Linked DNA regions of Homo sapiens: all the other regions are linked to region 2. The links come from fine-mapping of genetic effects on gene expression. A gene starts in region 2. Each other region holds a variant in brackets. All regions are shown on one strand. Distances are between the middles of the regions.

Region 1 (8,185 bases), 110 kb before region 2:
CACAGAAATGGCAATATATTAGATTGCCTGAGAGAAAGCTCAAAGCACTCTCTGGGAGCATGCCAAAAGAAACCTCTGAAGAAAAAACTGTGGGTGGCTCATTGGTGGATGAAAAAGATCCTTGAGTCAATTCCTATTGAGTACACTTTCCTTTCTCTTGTTTTGTAACCCCCCTGTGGACATCAATTATTCTCACTCCAGGCTAGAAGATTTCCCACTTTCCTGAACAAGAGGTCTTTGGAGAACTGAATGCAGATATTTCCTTTCACTTCTGTGGCTTGAACTCTCCATAAGTTGTGTGGTCTGTGTTTCTATTATTTTTAAAATGGGAAAATAAAAGGGTAAACTGCAATAAGACCTACCAAGGTGCCAAATAAATTCAAAATAACTTTGCAATTGCAGTTTCTTCAACTAAAACACCTCCATACATTGAAATTAGAGTCTTTACTCTTTCAAGCACAGCTGTGGTTGGAGAAGTTTGTGTAATCCCTCTTGATTATGTGAGAAGTGGGCAATTGAAAAGACAACTGCAGGGAGGTCAGAACCCCAAAATCAGTAATGGCCCAATCTGACTGTCATTAGTGATGAAAAAGCACCAATGAAAAATCCTTTACTAATAGTCATGCTGTCTTTTTACAATCTATTCTTAAATTAGTCATTATTTTGGAAGCAAAGTAGTTACCGGGGTGATTTTGAAGAGGAGTCTCAGTATGCTTAATGGAAAGTTTGCCCTTATAAGATGACTTGGGACAATAGATTTGTTCAAATTGCTATGAAATCTAGAGAACTCTTGAACATGGACCTTTGAATCTTCATGTTGAAATCTATTTGTCAAATTGTTCAAATACTATTACAAGATTATGGTTTCCTGATATTTTCTTTCCCCCCCAAAAAATTTCAAGACTATACGAACATCTAACTTAAACAAGTTTGTATGTATTTATTATTGGGGAAACGTGTATTTTAAAATACATTTTATTACAGAGTACTGGGTAATACTATTATTTTTTATCTTCGAACCTAAAACAACATGCCAATAGGCACGCTAAGAGCCAATATATGACCAGCAAAAAAAAAAAAAAAAAAAAAAAAAAAGCGAAATAGGGAATCTATGGCTTATTTTAAGTTTATTTTTTGAGAAACAAGTTCGATGAAAATTACTTGGGGCAACTGAGTTTTGAACATAGTGTCATGTATCCCACGGCAGGCTCCCAGGTGCACGTACAGCAACTCTCAGCTCCCTATTAGCCTGAATCTCTTCCTCCAGCTCACTGCTGAATTCCTATAGAGCCACAGTGCCTACCACATCAGGAGGTACACAGCCACCAGCAACATGCTAGGCTGGGAAAAGATAGAAAACCCTTTCCATAGTTTACATAGAGATGAGCAGGGATTTCAATGGTTTCTGTTGTGTTATTTCTCAAGTATTAGATGTTTATAAAGATGAGTCCAAGTATTGCATGTGTGTAAAGAAAAATAATCACCCAAAATCTACTATGTATTACCTAAAAAATAACAATGGATTAATATTTTGAGCTATATAACTCCAATACATTCAAGAATTTTTTGTAAATATGCATAACAGGTACATCTATATATCTATCTATACATCATTCAAAACTTGTTTCATTCAATGCATATTATACTGTTTCTTTTTATTACTCAACTTTATATCTGAAATATGTGTATGTTAACAAATAAATATACAATTACCTTATTACTTATATTGGAGAAGTTGTACTTCATAGTATTTGAACATAAGCTCTGGAATAGGACTACTTAAGTTGAACCCGAGTCTTATTGACCAATTGTGTGATCTTGTGCAAGATCATTAAACACCTTGACCCTCAATTTCCTCACATATAGAATGATTATTATAATAGTATCTATCTTATAGGGTTGTAGCAAAGATTAAATGAGTCAATATATGTAAAGAAGTTATAAGAATGCCTAGCACACAGTGAATATTCAGTAAATGTCAGTTACCATTTTTAAAGCTTTATAGTATTTCATTGTGTAAGTGTACAATTTATGTACGTATATAGATATTATTACTGTTTTTAATAGCAAACATTTGTAAATGAGGTATAATGACAATACCTCATACCTCATACCTCATTTACAAATGTTTGCTATTAAAAACACAGTAATAATATCTATATATATACATATTTTCATATGTTTCTGACTTATTTTGGAGGGGAATAATTTTACAGAGGTAGAATTTCTCAGTCAAATGCTGTACACATTCATGTGTCTTTTTTTTAGTGTTTTATTTTTATTTTTATTTTTTACTATTATATTTTAAGTTCTAGGGTACATGCTCACAATGTGCAGGTTTGTTACATATGTATACATGTGCCATGTTGGTGTGCTGTACCCATTAACTCATCATTTACATTAGGTATATCTCCTAATGCTATCCTTCCCCCGACCCCACGACAGGCCCTGGTGTGTGATGTTCCCCTTCCTGTGTCCAAGTGTTCTCATTGTTCAGTTCCCACCTATGAGTGAGAACATTCATGTGTCTTTTAAAGCTGATTGCCCATAAATTTACAGGAGTAGAATTTCTCAAAGGCTCTACATATTCATGAGTCTTTTGAAGCTGATTGCCAATATGACATCAGAAATGTTAAACCCCTTTTTGCCCATCAAGCAGAGTATAAGAATACTCAACAACCACTGGTCATGTATGTTTTAAACATTTTTACTGTGACTAAAGTTTTTAAATAACTCTTCTGAAAATATAAGGAAAAAATAAAACAAGAACACAGACTTCCCTGAAGAGCTAACAATTGTGCTCCAAGAGAAAGCCAACAGTTGTATTGCCTGCTCCCCAAGGGTTCCATTCGCTAACCAGTGTAATCCAGAGGGGTAGCAACAATCAGGAAGGAGAGTCTGTTTGTACAGGAGTTGACCTTGCCATTTTTTTTATTAAATCCAATTCCAAAAACGTACAAATACAAAAGAGAGGAAAGGGGAAATTTAAAAATAGCTTTGCCCCTACTCTGAGGTGTGAAATGAAAGAAGAGCTTGAAATTCCCTGCAGGTTTGTGGAAGCCAGTCCTGACCTGCTCAAGTAGGGAGGAAAAATAGAGGAATGCAGGTTTAAACTGACTACACTGGCATATCTTAATTATTGAAAATTACGAGAAAACTATGAGATCTGCCTAAGATAAGAAAGGAAACCCAACAGATCATGATGAAAGAAAAAGATTGGGGGAAAAAACTACAATGTGTTGTGTTTGTGCCTTCTTGAGTTCAAGCAGTTTAAAGAACAATATGCAATCCTAATTGAAATGTATAACACAAAAGTTTTAGAAACATGTCTAAAAATTTTACTTGGCCAGGTGCTGTGGTTCATAACTGTAATAGCAATACTTTTGGAGGTTGAGGCAGGAGGATCACTTAAGGCCAAGAGTTCCAGATCAGTCTGGGTAAAACAGCGAGACTGTGCCCCCACAAAAAAATTAAAAATAGCTGGGTGTGGTGGCACACACTTGTAGTCCTAGCTACTTAGGAGCTGAGGTAGGAGGACTGCTTGAGCCCAGGAGTTCAGGGCTGCAGTGAGCTATAATCATGCCACTGTACTCCAGCCTGGGTGGCAACAAGACCCTATCTCAAAAACAAACAAATAAAACTTTATTCAATTAATTTCTACCATGAGAAAAGCATGTTGGATCAGATCTCCAAACCAAAAGGGTATTTTTAAAGCTGATTTTAATTAACATTCTTGTGGAATACTTTTTAAATTATAGAATATTAATTTATTAATAATTTATTGAGCACCTACTATGCACCAGCTACTGTTCTAGATACTAGAGATTTCAAATAGACTATGAACAAACAAATAAATTTATAATGTCCATATAAGGTCAGTTTCTTACAAATGTTTATGAAGAAAAATCATAATGAAGTGTTAGAATGTATCAATGAAGCTAAGAGGGCTTTTGTAG[A/C]CTGGGTGATAAAAGAAATCTTCTCTGAGGAGTTAACATTTTAGCAGAAACTTTTAAAATGTGATCAAGAGGAAGGTGGAGCAAGATGGCTGGATAGAAGCCTACACCGTTTGTTCCCCCTACCAACCAAGCCCCACAAGAACACCCAATTTTAACAACTAACTACACACAAAAATCACCATCACAAGAACCAAAAATCACATGAGCACTCACAATGCGTGGGTTTTTTTTTGGTTTGTTTGTTTGTTTTTTGAGACAGAGTCTCGCTCTGTCGCCCAGGCTGGAGTGCAGTGGCGCGATCTCGGCTCACTGCAAGCTCCACCTCCCGGGTTCATGCCATTCTCCTGCCTCAGCCTCCCGGGTAGCTGGGACTACAAGCACCCGCCACCACACTCGACTAATTTTTTGTATTTTAAGTAGAGACGGGGTTTCACCGTGTTAACCAGGATGGTCTCAATCTCCTGACCTCGAGATTCGCCCGCCTCGGCCTCCCAAAGTGCTGGGATTACAGGCGTGAGCCACCACGCCCGGCCCACAGTGCCTGGTTTTAATTTCATATAGCTGAGAGAGGCACTGAAAGGCAGTAGGAAAGACAGTCTTTTTTTTTTTTTGAGATGGAGTTTTGCTGTTGTTGCTCAGGCTGGAGTGCAATGGCACGATCTCAGCTCACTGCAACCTCCACCTCCTCAGTTCAAGCGATTATCCTGCCTCAGCCTCCAGAGTAGCTGGGATTATAGGCATGCGCCACCATGCCCGGCTAATTTTTTTGTACTTTTAGTAGAGACAGGGTTTCACCATGTTGGCCAGGCTGGTCTCAAACTCCTGACCTCAAATGATCTTCCCACCTTGGCCTCCCAAAGTGCTGGGATTACAAGCGTGAGCCACCGCGCCCGGTGGAGAGGCAGTCTTAAATAGCTGATGCCACTCTTCTCATCCATACCCTTCCCCCACAGTGGCCATGCAGCACAGAGAATCTGTGTACTGGGAGAGGGAGAACACAGCAACTGGGGAACTTTACATTGAATTCAGTGTGCCCTGTCACAGCAGAAAACAGAACTGGGTTGTACCCAGCTGACACTTGCCCACCAAGGGAGCATTTGGACAAGCTGCAGCCAGAGGGAAATCGCCCATCCCAATGGTCAGAGCCTGAAGTCCGGCAAGCTTTGCCACCCACATGGCGAAAGTGCTCTGGAACCCTAAGGGAACTTAAGGGGCAGTCTAGGCCATAAGGACTGCAACTCCTAGGCAGGTCCTAGTGCTGAGATCGGTTCAGAGCCAGTGGACTGGAGGGACACACAATCTACTGAGACACAAGCTGGTACAACTAAGGGAGTGCTTCCACCACCCCTCCCCCATCCCCTAGTAGCAGCCATGCAGCATGGAGAAATCTATAGGCTTGGGAGAGGGAAAGTACAGCAACTGTGAGACTTTACATTGAACTCAGTGCTGCCCTGTCACAGCAGAGACCAAAGCTGTGATGGGCTCAGCCAACACCCTTGCACGAAGAGAGCATTTGGATGAGACCTCGCTAGAGGAAAATTGCCCATCAAAGTAGTCAGAACTTGAGTTTCTCAGCAGGCCTCTCCACCACTGGCCAAAGTGCTCTAGGGTTCTAAGTAAACTTAAGAGGCAGTCTAGGACTGAAGGACTGCAATTTCTTTTTTGTTGTTGTTTTTTGGCTTGAGGTGGATTTTATTTACTCTGGTGTTTTTAGCTCTTTGCTACTTGCTTACATGTTATCTGAGGGTTGATGTTAATGGGGGCAGTTTTATAAGAATTAGTGGGAAAATAAGGTGTTTTAGAGCCTTGCAAAAGGAAAGCCAACTCCATAAAATGTTCTAGGATAGAATTTGTCACATTTCTCCCCTTACGATAATAATTAAATGCAATATAACATTCTTTATAAAAAAATAAGAGCAATATAATTGAAGGAAATCAGGCAACTACTAGGGCTGGCCTGGGCTTAGAGACAGTGGATTGGAATGGCATGTGACCTAGGGAGACACCAGCCAAGGTGGCTAAGGGAATGCTTGCGCCATGCCTTCTCCAACTTCAGGCCATGCAGCTGGCAACAACAAAAGTGACGCCTTCCTCCTGCTTGAGGAGAGGAGTGAAAAGTATAACAGACTTCGCCTGACATCTTGGATACCAGCACAGCCATAGTAGGATATGGCATGGTACACAGTCATAAGGTCCCCATTCCATGCCCTAGCTCATTTCTTGACACTCCCTGGGCCAAAAGAAAATGTGCTGTCTTGAATGAAATGACCCAGTCCTGGCAGGACTCATTGCATGAAAATTAAAGAGTTCTTGGGCTGGGCGTGGTGGCTCATGCCTGTAATCCCAGCGCTTGGGAGGCTGAGGCAGGTGGATCATGAGGTTAGGAGTTTGAGACCAGCCTGACAAACATGGTGAAAACCGTCTCTATTAAAAATACAAAAAAAAAAAAAAAAAAAAAAATTAGTGGGGCTTGGTGGCACATGCCTGCAATCCCAGCTACTCCAGAGGCTGAGGCAGAAAAATCACTTGAACCCAGGAGGTGGGGGATGCAGTGAGCCAAGATCATGCCACTGCACTCCAGCCTGGGCGACAGAGCAAGACTCCATCTAAAACAAACAAACAAAAAAAACAAACTCCTGGGCCCCAGATAACCAACAATGATACTCAGTTAATACAGCATGCAGCATGGGTCTTGCACTCTGAGACATGCTGCCTTCAGGTGTGTCCCAGCATATTCCCACCTATGGTGGCTATAGTGAAATTTCCCTTTTTGAGAAAAGCAGAGGGAGAAGGAAAGAGGACTTTGTCTTACACCATAGGTACTAGCTCAGCCACACTGGGGTAAAGCAACAAGAAGACACTTGAGGTCCTCAAGTCCAAGCCTAGGCACTTGGAAATCAATTCTGGATCTGCCCTGGACCAAAGGTAGGGGCAACTGCCCTAAAGAGTGAGACCTGGGCCTTGCAGTGTTCACCACAAGCTGACGGAAGAGCCCTTGGGCCTTAAGTGAACATCACTGGTGGCCAGGCAGAAGCCCTGTGTGAGCTGGTAGTGATGGTGGACACGGAGAGCGGTTTCTTTGCCAGTGAGTAGAGGGAAGAGCAAGAAGGAATTTGTCTTGTAGTTTGAATGCCAGCTTAGCCACAGTAGAATATAACATCAGGTAAATTGCTAACATTTTTTACTCCAATCCCTGGCTCCCAGATAGCATCTCTGGACCCACAGGGGCCATGGGGGAACTTGCCACTCTAAAGGAAGGAATTAAAATCTGGCTGGCTCCACCACATGCTGGTCATAGAGCCCTAAGGCCTTGAGTGAACATAGGTGGTAGCCATGTAGTGGTTACAGCAGGCCATGGATGACATCCAGTGCTGTACTGGCTTCAGGTCTAAATCAGCACAGTCCTGGTGGTTGTGGCCACAGGAATGCCTGAGTCTACCCACACCTAGTTCCAGGCAGCTCAGAACAGAGAGAGAGAGAGAGAGAGAAAGAAAGACACTCTGTTTTTTGGGGAGAAAGTAAAGGAAAAAAACAAGAGTATCTACCTGGTAATTCAGAGAACTCATCTAGATCTTATTCAAGACTACTAAGGCAGTATTTCTACAAGTTTCTAAGAACCACAGCATTGTTGGATGGGCCAAGTTCCTTCAAATACCTGGAAAGCCTTCCTAAAAATGCAAGCCCAGATTGCAAAACGACAATAAATGCCTAACTCTTTAATGATGCCCAGACACTGATGAACATCTACAAACATCAAGACCATCCAGGAAAAGGAGGGGCCAAGATGGCTGACTAGAAACAGCTATGGTCAGAGGTGCCTACCAAGAAGAATGAAAACAGTGAATGAATCCTGCAGCAACTAAGGTATCCAGGTTCTCTCACTGAGACTGACTTTGCAGTTGGCAAGACCCATGGAGAGTGAGGAAAAGCAGGGCGGAGTAACAGCACACCCAGGAGCTGCACAGTGCAAGGGGAGCTCCCACTCCCAGCCAAGGGAGGTAGTGAGTGATTGTGCTACCCCACCTGGGAAACCACACTTTTTCCATGCATCCATGCAACCCACAAATCAGGAGATCCCCTTGTAAGCCCACAGAGCTGTGAAGATTCTCAGTGGCTGCTTAGCTGGAGACTGCCTAAGACTACCGAGTTCCTGGAGGGAAGGGCAGCCACTATCACTGCAGCTGCCTGCTGCCTGCTGCCTAAGATGACTGAGCTCCCAGAGGGAGGGA
Region 2 (8,185 bases):
CGCACCCGCTGTGTGCAGGGCTGGCGCTCCGCAGAGCAAACAGCGCCCACGACCCAGGGACAGCTGGCCACCGAAGTCCCTCCCCGGCGCCCTTCCCCGTTCCTTGAGGATAGGGGAGCTGAGGTTTTCATGTGAAGGGCGCCCATGAAATTCGTGGGAACTTGTTCTGGCGTCTTCTGGAGTGGAGTTCTTTCAGGGGTTTCGGGTCTGCCCGGGACTACAAAATGGGATCCTGGGTTGGCTGGAGTTTCCCAGACTAGGCTGGAGAGAGGTCGGCTGTTGGCTCGCGGGAGAGCCCAGAGGAACCCCTTGGGCGATGGCAGTCAAGACCGGCGGCTGCGTTTGCCTGGAAGAAAAGCCTAAATACATTAGCGAGCTGGTAAAGCTTTTAAGGCCTTCTTGGGAGCGAGTGGCTGGCTAATGAGAGGTTAATTTTGTTTCGAAGGGAAGGCTGCACTGGTTTCCTGAGATAAATGGACAGGAAGCGCATTACCTCCGCGCGCTGGCAAGCGGCTCCCAAATGCTTTTTGCACCTGCCGTTTTGAGCGGTGAGAGCAGCGGCGGAGCCCGCAGGGATTGCGGGGGCCCGTTGTCTACGAGCGGGTGATGAGCCCCCCGCAAGCCCCGGGCTCTCTCCCTCCGCGAGTGCATTGCTCACGCCAAGCTTTGGGACTCTTCTCTCACACCCAGGTCCTGCGTGTTCCGAAGTTCAGGGGCCCCCTGATCCCGCTGAGCCCCCTCCAGGAGCGAAAGGGTTAAGAATGATGTAAGTACAGGCACTTGATTTCTCAAGTCGCCCGCTTGGCCCTCTTCCAAGTTGTACTTTCCTTATTTTCTCTCCTTTCCTTTCCTTACTGTTCTAACGCTTTTTAATAAACTTTCACTCTTGCTCTGAAAAAAAAAATGATGTAAGTACAAACCACGAGCTGCTTGACGCTGAGCTGTTGGACTCCGGGCTATTTCAGCCGCTGCTTTGGGTACACAGTGGCCGGGGAGCAGCCGGGGAGCCCTTACTCTAGAAAGGATTGCACAAATCGCAAGCTTAGGTGATCTGTTAAGCAGTCAGAGATTCTCCTGTTAGATTTCTGGAAATGGAGACATATTAACTGGAGAACAGTTAAAAACATCACGTATAGGCTCAGGAAATGAAACTGCATCTTGTTTAGAATCCATTAGTGTTTCTGGCATGTGTTTTAATTCTGTCCACTTGCACGTTCATGCCGTAGTATGCTTTGCTGGATTCTCCGGATGTACTGTTCAGGTCTCCTCCTTCCTTTCTGAAAACAAAGAGAAAGGGAGAAAGAGTACCAGTGGCAAGAAACAGGGTGGATGTGTGAATTACACAAGTCATCAGCCACTTCATGATTTTTTTTCTGATTAAAACATAAAACTTTTATAAGTCACCGATTTTTTTGTTTGTGTTCTAGCTCCCTCCCCGATTTTTCTTTGTACAATATAAAGTCGTTTGTAACTTGCAGCTCACGGGCTTGAGGAGTGGCTGCGGTATAAGCGACTATTCACTACGCTCTTGCTTTCCAAGCCAATTCCTGATCTTGTGAACAGTACGAATTTACCCGCGAGTGTGTCAACTGACCTATGTCTTGAAAATAGGAACCACCTTGCGGTTTACTTGTGAAAATTAGCATTTTCCTCTAGCGGCTGAACACTTATGCAGCAATAAAAAGTGAATTGTTAGGCTTATAAATCTCGAGCTTGTCAAATTTTACAACAGAGGAGCAATAAAGCACCTTATAGAGATGAAGTTTTTCCTCTGAAGAACAGTTCCGTTTAACGACACCAGGATTTGCAATGACTCGAGGACGCCCTCTATTGATAGGAAAATCTAGAGCACCCGTGTACTTATGGAACAGGATATAGGGGGAGGGGAGTAAAAAATCATAGAAAGTCACGAGTGGAAAGACCCAAACCAAACAGAAATTATTGATCCTTAACTATTGAGTATATGCTTTGAAGTATGATCAATAAAGTGAGATGCTGCTTTTATAGGGGTCGAATTAAATCTTGGGTTAAGAGAAAAAAATGTAGTCTTTGTTAGCCAAATACTTTGAAAATCAGTATTATGTTTGATTACTTTTTTAAGATGCTTCTTAGTATGTCATGAACTGTATCTAATTATATGAAGTAATTGCAAGATAGTAAATTTTTGCTCTAATAATACTTAGTCCGCAGCATTATCTAAAAATGTCATATAACTTCCTCCCCAAAAGTCATTTCTCCAGGCAACTGTGAAGCTATTATTAAGCGTATTATGGATATACACAGGCTTGGATTATATTGTGGATAGTGAAAGGTGTGTTTACCCCTTAAGTCATCATAGTATGTAACAAGTAAGTAATGAAAAGTTACAGTAAAAACAGATAGGCATCCTTCATTAGGGACCTAGTGGTTTGGGCAATTCAAAATGTGTCTAATAAGTGAGCTGGTGAGACTGAAGGTTTGCCCCTCAATTATCCTAGTCCATTGATTAGCTCATTTAAACATGTGTGGAATATCAGCATGTCCGTGGTTGATAAGAAATTCCTAATTAGAGATTCTGAGTAACATAGCGGGTACAGTTGCCAACTACGATTTGGATGTTAGTGGATTTTAAATGGCAACCCTGTGCTGTTTGGGGAAAGGCAAAGGCGAGGGCGGTATCAAGTGTCTCTCAGCCTTGAGGTCATTCTTGAGATTAGATACCACTTCACACCTACCGATAACAAATTGGAATCTATCATCAGTCTCATAACTGCTTTTCTGTCTCCACTTGGCAGCCTCTTTCTTTGTAGACAATTGTCTTTTTCCTCACTTTCGGACCCATCCGATCATAAAAGGAGAAAGTGAGCTGCCATTGAATTAATCCGTAGAAATTTGTGGAAAATTTAAATAATCTGTAGAAATTTGTGAAAAAGCCACTGAGCAACAACAAATCGTGGCATAATTACACTGCATAAAAACCCACCACTCTCATTAATTACACTGTAACCGAACGTTGAAGTTTGCCCACTCTTAGACCTCTCCTTGCCGCTTTCAGGAAGGGAAATGTCAAACTAGAACACCTGAGCCTCGCACAGCTGCCAGCGAATTCCGGCGGCAGTTCGCGGGTACCTTCCCAGCCCATCCTATCTGCTCCGGACCGCGGGTGACATTCAGATTTCCAACACCGCCCCGAGCTTGCTTTACCAGACACCCTCAAACGACTCGGAACGCGGTTCCGCAGATGTGATTGGCTGAAAGGGGACCTGCCGCGCGGCGCTCTGTAAAAGCGCCTGCTTCCTCCAAGGAGGTGGAGCTGAAGCTGGCAGGGCCAGGGCAGGGAGGGGTAATTAAATTAAAAAAAAAACTTGGAGGGAAGATGAATCGGATCACATTAATTCAAGGAGAGGTCAAAGGCCGGTACCTTTGTAACGCCGGCGAGAGTAAGACTTGCGGTCGCCCATTTCTGTTGGGCGCGAGGAAACAGTAAATCGCGGAAGGGGGTAGAGGGGGAAGGAAAGGGAGCGCGAGGCAGCATGCGGCGCAGGAGAGAGGACTTGGAGTCGATGGACAGGGAACTCGAATTACACTGAGCGGGCGGGGGAGAGGGCCCTCTGGGTCCTGCGATTGGCAGGCTGAGTCGGGCTGACGTGCGGTCACAACCAATGGGGAGGAAGGGAGGGACACGGCGGGGGATTATGGCGTCGTGGATTGGCGGGCACAGGGCGGGGCGGGACGGCAGTGCGGGACTGAGATTGATCGACCGCGGGGGCTGCCGCGCAGAGATATCCGGGCCGCCGGTGGGTGGTCGCTAGGGCTGGGCCAGCCTCTTGGAGGTCCACGCCCGCCGAGCCCACGCTGGCTGGGGCCGGGGTGCCGGCGCGCTCGGGACTCGTCTCAGCAGTCGCTCACGGTCTTTGTGTCTTCTCTTCCGCCCCTTTCCCTGCCTGCCGCCTCCGGCCGCCACGATGCCCCTGCGCCCCGCTGCTGCCGCCGCGGACTGGCTGCGCCGGCTGCGCGCTGCTTGCTGCGGCGGTGGTGGCGCCCCATCTGCTACACGGGCCTGAAGAAGGAAGAAGAGGAAGCGAAGCGCGCCCCCCGGCCCATGCCGCAGCCACGGGCCCAGACCCGCCACGGCGCCCGCGCCGCCGCCCTCGCCGGAGCCCACGAGACCTGCATGGACGGGCATGGGCTTGAGAGCAGCACCTTCCAGCGCCGCCGCTGCCGCCGCCGAGGTTGAGCAGCGCCGCAGCCCCGGGCTCTGCCCCCCGCCGCTGGAGCTGCTGCTGCTGCTGCTGTTCAGCCTCGGGCTGCTCCACGCAGGTAGGACGGGAGCGCGCGAGGGGAGCCAGCCCCGGGGCCTAGGGCTTTGTTCCCAAATAGCCCCAGGTCTCGAAGGCGCTCGCCGGGGCGGAAGGGCGGCGTGGCGCAACGGGAAAGGCCTCCCGAGCCCCTGACACGCACCTCTGTCGGGCTCCGGGCCACAGTAACGCAGCCACCCACCGGGCGGCCGCCGGGCGCAGAGACGAGCCTTCTCTCCACCCTCCCCGCCTTCGGCTCGGACCGCTGACAAATCTCCCCTCCGACAGCCGCTTATCAAACATTTAGCGGGCGGGGGCCGCGCGCCCGAGACAAATGTTCCGGATGCTTTATTGCTCTCTGCGCTGGTGTTTACTGAAAGTCAGGCTCGGATCAGGTTTCCGCCGTCGCAGCCGCCTCGGAGGGAGACAAGGAGCCTTGTGCTGCTTTTCTGGAGTTGGGGGTGGCGGCGAGGCGAAGGAAGTACACCAGATGGAAAGATTTTTACCAGATTTTGCAAACCTGGGAGTTAATCTCGAAGTAACGTCAACTTTTTTGAGCAGGGATTTCTTTCGTTTTGGCAAAAGCTGCGTTTGTTCAGCGATCAGCCTCCCGGGAAAAGCTCGTGTTTTGTGACTAGCCGGGTGTCTTCGGGCTCCGTGAGGGGTTGACAGATAACCATGCTGCCTTCTGGAGGTCGGCGCTTCCCCAGCCTTGAGGCGTATGTTCCAAGGGAAGTAAGCCTGCAAATGAGCCTTCTACCATGTGATACCTATTTTTCTTTTTAAAAAATCGTTTCATGAAAATCCAGGACGCTCTTCACACTATTTTTTTCTAGGAATTTGCCTAGACAAAGAATTTTTTTTAATGCTAAGGTTGAAAGGGTCATTTTCCTTTAGTCTTGAGAACAAACAGCATTAGATAAGTTTCTTTTCCTTCCAGACCTTTTTTGTCCTGTATATATGAGACACTTCACAACGTTCTGGTCTGGAGAATCCTGAACTTCGATGCCACCCAACTGTGCGGAGTAATTTTTACTTATTAAACCATACCCGCCATGCTAAAAATCAGGGAGGTCTTTTAAGTAATGGGGGGGAAAATGTGACATCTGAGGAGACTTAATTTACTTTGCGTAGCTTTGCATTATGATGTAATAGCTGCTTTTTAACACCGACAATTAGGGAAAAGACGGCTTAATAAAAAAGTGTAATAGAAAGTTTTAGGATGATTACGGCTTTCAATTAGTAACCTAAGAACCTTAGAAAATAGTGTCAATCTGCATGTAGTTACGTGGAAAATTTTTCTTGACATGTTAAAAGATATATTCAGGAGTGTTTGTGCGAAAAATATGTGTCCATAATACCAAAATGTAAGTTTCATGAAATGGAAATTGTGCTAGGTGGGATTGTGTCCCCCTTGGCTGCTTGGATATTGTTTCCCATAGTTGCCATAGGATCCTGTGACAGAATTGGAATGTGGTCCCTGAAGGTTTCTTTGCTAGCCCGTGAAAGGCATACTAAGTTGGCTTAAAGGTTTAGAAAAGTAGGGTGTCTTCGTTCAAGAATTTGGAATGTGAAGCTCCCAGTATCTTCATGTGTCCTCATTTAAGTCACCATTAGATTCAGCCCAACAATGTGGTAAGCGATTTCTATGGACAACTTGTTGGAGTGAAGCGATTAATCCTGTTAAAGAAAAGAACGCTCCTTTTGAGAGATTTCTTTGAAGAGTGGTGCTATTTAAATGCCCGGGTTGTTTCTCAGATAAGGGAACCCAGCAAGAGTGCCAGTGCTCTTTGCAGATGGACTACTATATGTTTTATGCCTGGATCCTTATCATCTGCCTCAGCACCCCATATGGCTCCACATTTCACTTAATTCAGCTTCAGAATACCTCATTTCTTTTATTATAAACTGGTGATTGTGCTGCAGATTCACACGTGTAGTCCTGGTGTTAAAGAAACTGTCTTGAATGGTGAGGTCTTTATGTCTGATTCATTCAAAAATGATGAAATGAAAGCTCTAGACCCACAAATGCTTTAGCATGTTCAGTAACTGGTGTGAAAATACTGTCACACTGATCACAGATAATCTGACCCAAAAATAGAGAAATCTGTAGCTGCAGAGTTTTAATTCTGCCCTTGGGGAATGAAAAGAGTATGAAAAGAGTACCTTTAGTTGCTTTATTTTATTTTATTTTTTTTAAGCAAACCTCTGCAATTCCTGAATAGAGATCCAATATGGGAGTTACTTGCTTACTCATACACTTCATGGCCTTCTTGGCTACATCCTTGAGATTGTTTCTGCTCCGCATTGTCTTGGCATTTTGACAGGAGGCTTACTTTACCGCCTATAACAGGCAAAGTGTGCGTTGTCGTTATAAATTCATGAAGCCTGGATATTTCTGGGTGTATGCTACAAATTAGTCATTATATAGAAGCCCACAAGGCAGCTGAAAATGCTGACCCAATCGCACTTTCTATTTAGCCCTCTTCGCTCCCATCATCTCTGTAGCAGAAGGCTGTTGGAAGCCTTAGCCAAAGCAAAAGAACCCCGGGAGATCTGTTTGATTTGAGATTTGTTTAAGCAGTCAGCACCTACCTGCTATGAAAGAGGGAAAGGTTTAGGCCGGGCGCTGTGGCTCACGCCTGTAATCCCAGCACTTTGGGAGACTGAGGCGGGCAGATCACCTGAGGTTGGGAGTTCAAGACCTGCCTGACCAACATGGAGAAACCCTGTCTCTACTAAAAATACAAAATTAGCCGGGTGTGGTGGCGCGTGCCTGTAATCCCAGCTACTAGGGAGGCTGAGGTAGGAGAATCGCTTGAACCTGGGAGGCGGAGGTTGCAGTGAGCCGAGATCGCGCCACTGCTCTCCAGCCTGGGCAACAAGAGCAAGACTCCGTCTCAAAAAAAAAAAAAAGGAAAGGAAAAGGTTTGGGGGGTTGCAAGGAAGGTATGAAAAGGGAGCTGGGAATCTAAATTCCACTTTTCTTTCCTTCTGAATGGTTCCATCTGCATTTCCATACTGTTCGTTTGATATTTTATGACTATTTGAAATAATTATAAAGAAACGTATGCTCGGATAGATTTTATAGACCATAAAAAGAACAAATAGGCACTGCAAGTTTAGCGGGAAGTTCTTGTGCTGTCATTTATCCGTAGTCTTAAGAGCTCTTCATTACTGAGACCTTGGCCCCATATTTATTTTCTTGCTTTCTGTGTATCTGATTTTAAAAGAAAAAAAATGCAATAGCTACTTAAGTCTTTTTTTCAGCCATCAAGTACTGTCATTGCAGTTAGGAAATAAGAGGAGACGTGACCTGTGATGGAAGAACAACAAGTTTTGAGGGAAGGCACCACATCCTGGCTTAATGATGCTAGCTGTTTTATGATTCTGCCAGAACAAGCCCTTTAATATCCCTTTGCCTTGGATTTCCCATCTGCAAAATGGCTTTAACGCCTTTTGGAGTTGTTTAGTTGGTTAATTTCTGTTTTGGTTTGATTTGAGTTCTAGTGAAAAATAGCTGAAAATTATTTGATCTGCTTTGGAAAGAGAAATTCAGTAAATACTGGAGCTACTTTTGTCAGCTTTGGAATGAGCAAACATAAAGTAGATTCCACACAAAGATGTTTTTGTAACTTTTTTTTTGAAAGTATGATTTGATGATTGCTGTAAATCCATAGCTCCAACATATTAAAATGTTTTAATCTTTGACTCAGGTTAAAGTGAATACCAAGCCTAGACTATATAGTATTTTCCCCTTTTTGACCCAAACACACTTTCTCTGTATTTAGCCCTCTTCCCTCCCATCATCTCTGTAGCAAAATGCTGTTGGAAGCCTTAGCCAAAGCAGAAGAACCCAAGAAGATTTGAAATTTAAAATTTAAAATTTAAAATTTTGCAAATTTAAA
Region 3 (8,185 bases), 310 kb before region 2:
ACATATACTTGAAAAAATAACATGTTTACTCCATAATAATGAGATTTATACCCATAGGAATTTGTAAATATTATCAAATAAATAACTCTCTACCCACTGCTTTTCCTTTTCCCTCTTGAGAGCACCACTACTGTTTTCCAGAGGGCTCATTTTTGTCTTAAGATCCTTCACATGTATCCATAAAAATTAAGAATAAATGTATAAAATAAAAATTCTTCATGTGTTGAAAGAGGATTCAATACACACCCGAGTATTATGGTAAGAAGCAGTGCTGTTTTCTCACTCAGCTGGCTCCACTACGTCTCCTACAGACCTAGGCTGAGGTGAAGCAGCTGGCGCTTTATGGCTCCTCAATGTGCTACCTCTCTTACCTTCTCAATTTCAACTAATGACATGCATCTTTCCTTTACCTGTCTAAGCTAGGCACCTTGGCGAGGTCTCTTGACCCATTTAATCCAACACAAGTTATGCCTGCTACTACTGTTCCCGTTGAGCTGTTCACATTTTCACATCTGGTTAATGCTAGAGTCATTGGTCATATTACTGCCTGAGTTGTTTTTCCTAGGCACAGACTGCAGGCTATCACAGAGCCCAACTCTTACCTCACACGAGGCCTTCCCCTCTACCTTTTCCTTCCTACTTCCCACTTGAAGTCTTAACCACCTTTTGAACACTGAAGACTCAGCGAAAATGTAACTTCCACTGTCAGTTACCTCGGTTTCTCTAAAAGTGTTTTATCTTATTGAATTTACACTTAATGCCACCTAAACAAATGATTTCAAAATAATCTAACATCTCCTATCATAGTTTGCAAGCAACACAGGGCAGGGACTACATCATCATTACTGTGGTCTATTCAATAGATGTCTATTCGTGGCTGTCGCACACATCTCTATCAAAAGCTTCTAACAGCTCTCCCAGATTGTACAAACTCAAGTTCAAGAACTAGGTTTATCAGAACCCAAGTGGCCCCTAATCTCTCTCTTTATTCACATCTCTCTACCATTAGCTTCACATCTGTCTACCACTTTACTAGTAATTATCAGATATTTCAGCTACATGGCCTCATTTTCTGTCTTTCAAATGTATTTTTTTTTTACTTTCACATAATGCTGTGTTTATTCACTTAATACATTTTCCCCTGATAACCCTTTCTGGTCACTCTTCAAGTCCATCTACTAATCTTTCTAACTGTTGAAGTCTTCCTCATCTTTTATACATAATTAAAATGTTAGCACTTCTGAGGAAACATCTACATTTTATCATTGAGAATTAATGTCCTTTTTTTTTCTTGTGTCTCAGAGTGCTTCACATATGCTTCATTCATATCAGAAAACACAGTAGAGTCTATGCCTTCCTGTGGCAACAACTAAAGCCTAAAATTTCAACAATTTAACCTAACAAAGCTTATTTCTTGCTTATAGAGAATTCAGATAGGTCTGGCATCTTCCCAGGGCTGTTCTCTATGAAATGACTTCATTGGTCCACCAGGCTGCTTCCAAATTATGTCTCTGCTATGGAAACATGAGGCTTCCTTAATCACCTCAGGAGGACAGAAGAAACTGAAGACTCTGCGGGGGATTTTAATGACTCAGCTCAAAAGTGACGTGCTGAGAATCTACAGGCAAAATCAGTCACATTGCCTAGCTTAATGCAAGTGTGCCTTCAAAAAAGAGGATGACTGGGTATTGGTGAGCACTCATATTAAGTATCAGAGAAACTTACTGCATTAAATATATTTATGTATTCACTTGTCTCTTTTTGCTAAACTGTGAGGTCAAGAGAAAAGTGGTAATTTCATTTCCATACCCCAGAACTTCAGCCAGTATCATGCGCTGAGTAAGACATCAATAAGTTATTGTTAGACTAAATTGAATTAAATTACAGGTGAAATAAAGTTGTGCTTAGCTTTGAGGAGAAGAAACAAATTCTATTTCGTCACCTTCCTTAGCATGCTGTATTCACATAGTCATAAAACGGAATCTGTAAGCTTAATGGAGTAAGCAAGAATTATGAAACTAGACTTCCCAACTTCAAATTCTGGCTCTCTCACATTTAGCTGTATAGGTTTGGGAAAATTACTCAATATACATTTACCTCAGTTTCCTCAAAAGTTTGTTATAAATATTAAATGAGTAATTCATGTAAAATACTCAAACAGTATCAATATGTTAAGTACTCAACACATTACATATGATTATTCATTTACTGCATGAATAAGATACCAAAGCTTTCTAATTGCTCTTAGAGAAAACTTCAAAGTTCTTTCCACACTCTGCATGACTTGGCCCTCATCCACTGCACCAACTTCAATGAAAACTATTTCCCTCTTTCTTAGTGATGCTTCAGGCATTTGAATCTTTTTTCTGATTTTTGTTGGTTGGTTGGTCAGTTGGTTGGTTGGATTATGCCAGATTAGCTCCTACCTTCAGACTTTTCAACAGTTTCCCCAAATTATTACTGTTCCATCCCACCACCACCAGAAAACCACTGGTATGGCCTTTCTCATCATTTAGGTTTCAGACGACATTTGATCACCTCATCTAAAGTTGCCAACTACATTGACCAGTCATCCTCTAACATATCTCCTTGTATTATTATCTTCATACCATGACTTGTACCTATTAAGTTGTGAGATGAAAACTTTTTCTTGGCTGGGTGTGGTGCCTCACACCTGTAATCCCAGCACTTTGGGAGGCCAAGGCAGGCAGATCACCTGAGGTCGGGAGTTCGAGACCAGCCTGACCAACATGGAGAAACCCCCTCTCTACTAAAAATACAAAAAATTAGCTGGGCGTGGTGGCGCATGCCTGTAATCCCAGCTACTCGGGAGGCTGAGGCAGGAGAATCACTTGAACCTGGGAGGCAGAGGTTGCAGAGAGCCAAGATCACATCATTGCACTCCAGCCTGGGCAACAAGAGTGAAACTCTGTCTCAAAACAAAACAAACAAACAAAAAAACAACTTTTTCTGTCCTCCTAATATATGGCATTGCAGAGTTTAAGTCATTTGTGCAATGTTACATTGCTAGCACCAGATTAAAACTCAGTCTGGCTCCAATGCCTCTACTCTTGATCACTATGCTCCACTTCCTTGTTAAGCACTTCACCTATTTTCTCATTTAACACAAAATATTGTGATGGTTTTAAGTGCAAGTGCTAGAATAGCTAATTCAAACTGACTTAAATGACAAGCATCTGTACTATATTACATAAAGAAAGTCTTCCAGGTGGTGATGTAATCAAGGATGCAGACTGTCCATCTTTCTGCTCTGCTATACACTGTAGGTCAGTGATGCCTCCCCTCAGGGTCAGAGGACTAAAGCAATTTCAGACTTCACACTTGAGAAGAACATAGTAAGGAAAGATGGCCTTTTTGTCCATGAATATATTTTATTGGAGAAAGAACCTTTCCCAAGAGGAGTTCAGTGGTATCTCCCTGGATCCAAGTGACCAGGCCTGGGTCATATGACCCTGATCTGACTGAAGAGAGGTTGAGAAAGGAACTGATATGTGGAGGAACTGCCTCTAGAATTAGAGGCAGACTTTGACAGAACGTGGGTGTATATGTGTGTAAAAGCAAGACCAAGCATATGCAGTGTGCAGAGGGAAGTAAGCCGAGAGAGTGCTAGGATGGCAGTGGGTAAGCAATTAGCAGTGCCTCCCAGAAGCAAACATTCTATCCTTATATCACAGATGTGAAAACAGACTCCAAGAAGTTAAAAACTTGCAGAAAGTCACCTAACTGGTAAGAGGCAAAATTGGATTCAAATCTAGAGTATGGTAATAAAATG[A/G]GAACTGTAACAACCATACTATACTGACTCCACATTAACCCCTAATCTATGCCATAATGTTTGCCTTAATCCATATAATTCATTGGTGACTTATGCTTTGGTTTGTAACTTGGTATCTTCACGTTATATTCAACTTCCTTTTCTTACAAAAGCCATCTTACCCTTGACTGCTGCACACAACTTAGGTTAAATGTGTCAAAATATTATTCAATGTCAAGGTTCTCAATATTTTTGAGTTCCTAAAATTGTATCCTGTGGTGACTTAGAGAGGAACAGATACAAGAATAGCTATTTATTGAAGGCTCAACTAAGCATTGCCTGTGTAACCATGACTGACTCATCCTTGTAATTTTAAAGACAGCTACATAATATAAAACAGCATAGATGCTTAAAATAAGTTTTTATTTTTGTTTAACATGTAACCACATTATAAAGTTGTATCATGCATTTCTCAACTTAGAATTTAAGTGCATTTCCTTTCAGTCTTTTTCTTTAAATGTTATAATTAGAATTAACACTTATATTAACATTTGGTACCCTTATTTTTTACTTAGCTTTGAAACAAAATATAATTTTATGTTTACCATATAAGCTTTAAAATCATCATTTAAATATGCAATATTTCAGCATTTAGGTGCATCTTAATCATTGCCTAATGTTGAGCATTCAGTGTTTCCAATTGTTCTGCTATTATAAGCAATGTGTGACACGCGTCTCTGTGCATATTCTGAATTATTTTCTTAGACCATATTCCCAGAAGTGGAATGATTAAATCCAAGAAGATGAAAGATTTTTTTTATCAAGGAGTTTGCCAAATTGCTTTCTGAAAGTATGGGGTCAATTTACACTGTGATCAGTAATATATGGGAGCAGTAATTTCTGTGCTCTCACACTCGGTGAGAAATACATTTCTAAATCGATAACTTAAAGTGAGCCTTCATTTTGTAATATGAGAAAAAGAAAAGAGAGAAGTTGAGGGAAAAGAGTCATAGAATCTACGCACTCTGTTAGGGCTCACAGTTTAGAAGGGACAAAATAAATACAAATACATGTCAGTAAAACACTATTGCGGATAGAGAATGGACAGAGAAACTATGTAGTGAGAGAAATGTGTCCTGGCTATTGTGGAAGCTTGGAAAGTAGAACAGCACTTGAGATACCTCATTAAAGGGCAAGGAGGGGAAAGGTGGGTAGAGAGGGCACACAAATTATAGGCATAAGCAAGAGCAAAGACGTGTGTAATCAATGAGGGACATGTTGCAATTTGCAGTCTGAGGTCATAAGAGAGTCAAATGGGAGTCAAAGAATGAAAGAGAATTCTGGTAGGAGAGACAGAGTAAGATCTCGGAGGGTATTATGTGATGTAATAGCTTATATGTAATCCTGTAGATTATGGAAGAATCACTGCACAGTCTTAAGAAAAAAGTGGGCAAGTCAAACTTCTTTTTAAATCACTGTATTTCATCATGCAGTCTATAAAAGCAACATCAGCATCACCCAGGAGGCAAAGAAATGCAAATCCTCAGTCCCAAATGAGATGTACTAAGTCCAAACTCCAGGACAGCCCAGCAATTTGTATTTTAACAGCACTCCAAGTGGATCTGATGTGCAGAAAAGTTTGGGAACCACTAACTTAAATTAACATTCTGGTTGCTTTGATGGGGTAAGGCTAAATGTAAGAGGACCAGTCAGGAGGCTGCTGTGAAGATCAAGTGGAGACATGATGGGTCCTAAACTTGAGTAGGGGGATTGAAACCATTCAGGTGGACTGAGTTTACATAGGAGAAGTATGTAGATTGGGAACTTTTGGCTTAGGACAGAACCCTGGGGTTATATACAAATTATTAAGAAGAGGCGAGGCTAGGCACAGTGGCTCATACCTGTAATCCCAGCATTTTGGGAGGCCAAGGTGGATGAATGGCTTGCGCTCAGGAGTTCAAGACCAGCCTGGGCAACAGGGTAAAGCCGTCTCTACAAAAAATACAAAAATTAGCCAAGCACGGTGGCATGTACCTGTAGTCCCAATTATTCAGAAGGCTGAGGTGAGATCACTTAAGCCCGGGAGGCGGAGGCTGCAGTGAGCCATGTTTGTGCCACTGTACTCCAGCCTGGGTTAAAAAGCGAGATCCTGTCTCAAAATAATAATAGTAATAAATAAGATGCCAAAGAAGAAACTCTCTTTAAGAAAAGAAAAGATATAGTTAAGGAAGTGCGAGAAGGGAAAACGGTGAATATCAGGAAAGCCAAAGAGAGAGAATTTTAAGAGGATTTGAGAATCCCAAGTCAGATGAGGAACAGTACTTCAAAAACAGGAAGACAAAAGAGCATATTATATTTTGTAATCAGGGCATCATTTTTAACTTTAGAGAAAGCAGTTATAGTGCAGCATTGAAGATGGAATCCAATTAAAGGAAGATAAAGAAGAGATGCCATTTGAAAGAATGCAAGAAACTGCATAGATCCAGAGGTCAACAAATATTTTCAGAAAAGGCCGAATAGTAAATATTTTAGGATGATGGGCCTATGGTCTCTGTGGCAATTACACAACTGTGATATTGTAGAGCAAAAAGTGGCCATAGACAATATATAAATGAATGTTCATGGGTCTTCCCATGACTTTACTTATAAGAACAGGTGGCCTGCTAGTAAGTCATAAAGTGCCAACCTCTGGGTTAGACAATTGCAATAGGATTAAGGAAAGGTTTTTTTCCTTTTGTTTACTTTTGCTGTTTTTAAAATGAGAAAGTAATGTACATATTTATAAGCTAGAAAAAAGAGTCAGTAAAAATTAACTGTCAGTAAAATTAAAGAATGCACCTAGTCTTTTATTTAACAATATTTACTGTACTTATACTATGTTCCAAGCATTATTCTAGGCATTGAGACTTTGGGAATAAACAAGATAGACAAGGTCCCAAGGACATCAAAAATGACAGAATCAACAGATAACGCAAAAGATATACTAGATGATGATACGTGCCATAAAAAAGAAAGACCAATAAAATAGGGTGATGTAAAGCGAGTGCCAGCTGGGCTACTCTAGCTTTACAAACAGGAAAGACTTTTCTGAGGAAGTTGTATTTAAGCCTTGCTATGGTCTGAATGTTTGCGTTCCCTCAAAATTCATATATTGAGACTTAATCCCCAATATGGTAGTATTAAGAGGTAAAGTCTTTGGGAGGTCACAAGAGCTCTGCAACTGCCCTCATGAACAGGATTAGTGCCATTATAAAGGAGGCTGAAGGGAGATTCTTTGCCCCTTCCACCATGTGAGGATGGAGAGAAAGCACTACCTATGAGGAATGGGCCTTCACTGGACACCAAATCTGCTGGTATCTTGATCTTGGACCTCCCAGCCTCCAGAACGGTGAACAATAAATTTCTATTGTTTGTAAATTACACAGTTTAAGGCGTTTTGTAATAAGAGCCTGAACAGACTAAGACATGTCTTGACCTGAATGCCTAGAAAGTGCAGTAGAGAGACGTAGTGACTGGAAGAACAAGTCTCTAGGAGGAAGGAGTGTAGGGACCAAAGGGATGAATTCGACTTGGATGAAGGAAAACTGCTCATCTTATCAGGCAAAGAAATAGGTGGAAAGGTTGGCCATATGTTTCCTTAAGTTCATAGATGGAAAGAGCAAAAGGTTCAGAATGACTACGTTTAGATTTCATGATAAGATTACCCAACTAGAATGGTTAGAATGGAAGTTAAATTGAGAATGTAGGTAGAGTTGTGAATAATTGGTGGGGGTGGGGAATTGGTGGGGAAAGGACAAGAAAACTCACCAGAGTCAGATGGAATTAAAAGGTAGCAGTGAAAATACATCCATATTGGGCATAGCCATGAGAAATGTCTGCCTACTTGAATACTGCCAATGTCATCAGGAAGAGAGACTTGCAGCATGTTCTGCAGGGAACAAAATGTAATTCAAACACATGTGTCCCTGACCAAACCACTACATTCATGTTGTATTTGAAGATTAAATGATCTATAGTACAGATTCACAGAGATAAGCTCACTCAAGAGAGTATGTTTCACAAACTTATAGGCAAAGACTAGAAACTGTGGAAACCATTTGTATCACCTAACATGTCCTATCACAATGACTTATAAGACAGTGAAATTGAAGCCTTATATATGTTTTCAAAAATACACTGGAAGCTGCTGTGGGACACTGCAGTATGTGCCACAGGGTAGAAAGAGGTACCATCTGTCAGGGAAAAGAGTTATTTTGGAAAACCCACAAAATGTAAGAAAGGAGAGAATCAGAACAGATCCAAAGTATGGCAAATTAGATAAAGTGGGAAAACAGGCCTTAGCCAGCTGGATGGAATGTAGGGTTTTATACTCCTAACAGTTACTAGGGACTGTAAGGGTAGAAACAAGACAAA

Evidence for each region.
Region 1: its variant is fine-mapped to the expression of RGMB in whole blood (TOPMed, PIP 0.94).
Region 3: its variant is fine-mapped to the expression of RGMB in whole blood (INTERVAL, PIP 0.93).

Annotation. Positions count from the first base shown.
Region 1 is chr5:98,656,479-98,664,663 of GRCh38, forward strand. No RefSeq gene overlaps it. Among named protein-coding and RNA genes, the nearest start is that of RGMB-AS1, 110 kb to the right of the region's middle. The variant A/C (reference allele first, on the strand shown) is at 3,957.
Region 2 is chr5:98,769,908-98,778,092 of GRCh38, forward strand. RGMB (repulsive guidance molecule BMP co-receptor b) reads left to right here and starts at 3,756. Exons shown (of 3, transcript NM_001366508.1): 1 at 3,756-4,299. The coding sequence starts at 4,164. RGMB-AS1 (RGMB antisense RNA 1) reads right to left here and starts at 3,177. Exons shown (of 2, transcript NR_033932.1): 1 at 2,715-3,177; 2 at 1-1,277. RefSeq lists enhancers at 454-954, 3,333-3,382, 4,118-4,617, 4,873-4,992 and a silencer at 3,603-4,232.
Region 3 is chr5:98,456,623-98,464,807 of GRCh38, forward strand. No RefSeq gene overlaps it. Among named protein-coding and RNA genes, the nearest start is that of LINC01846, 300 kb to the left of the region's middle. The variant A/G (reference allele first, on the strand shown) is at 3,794.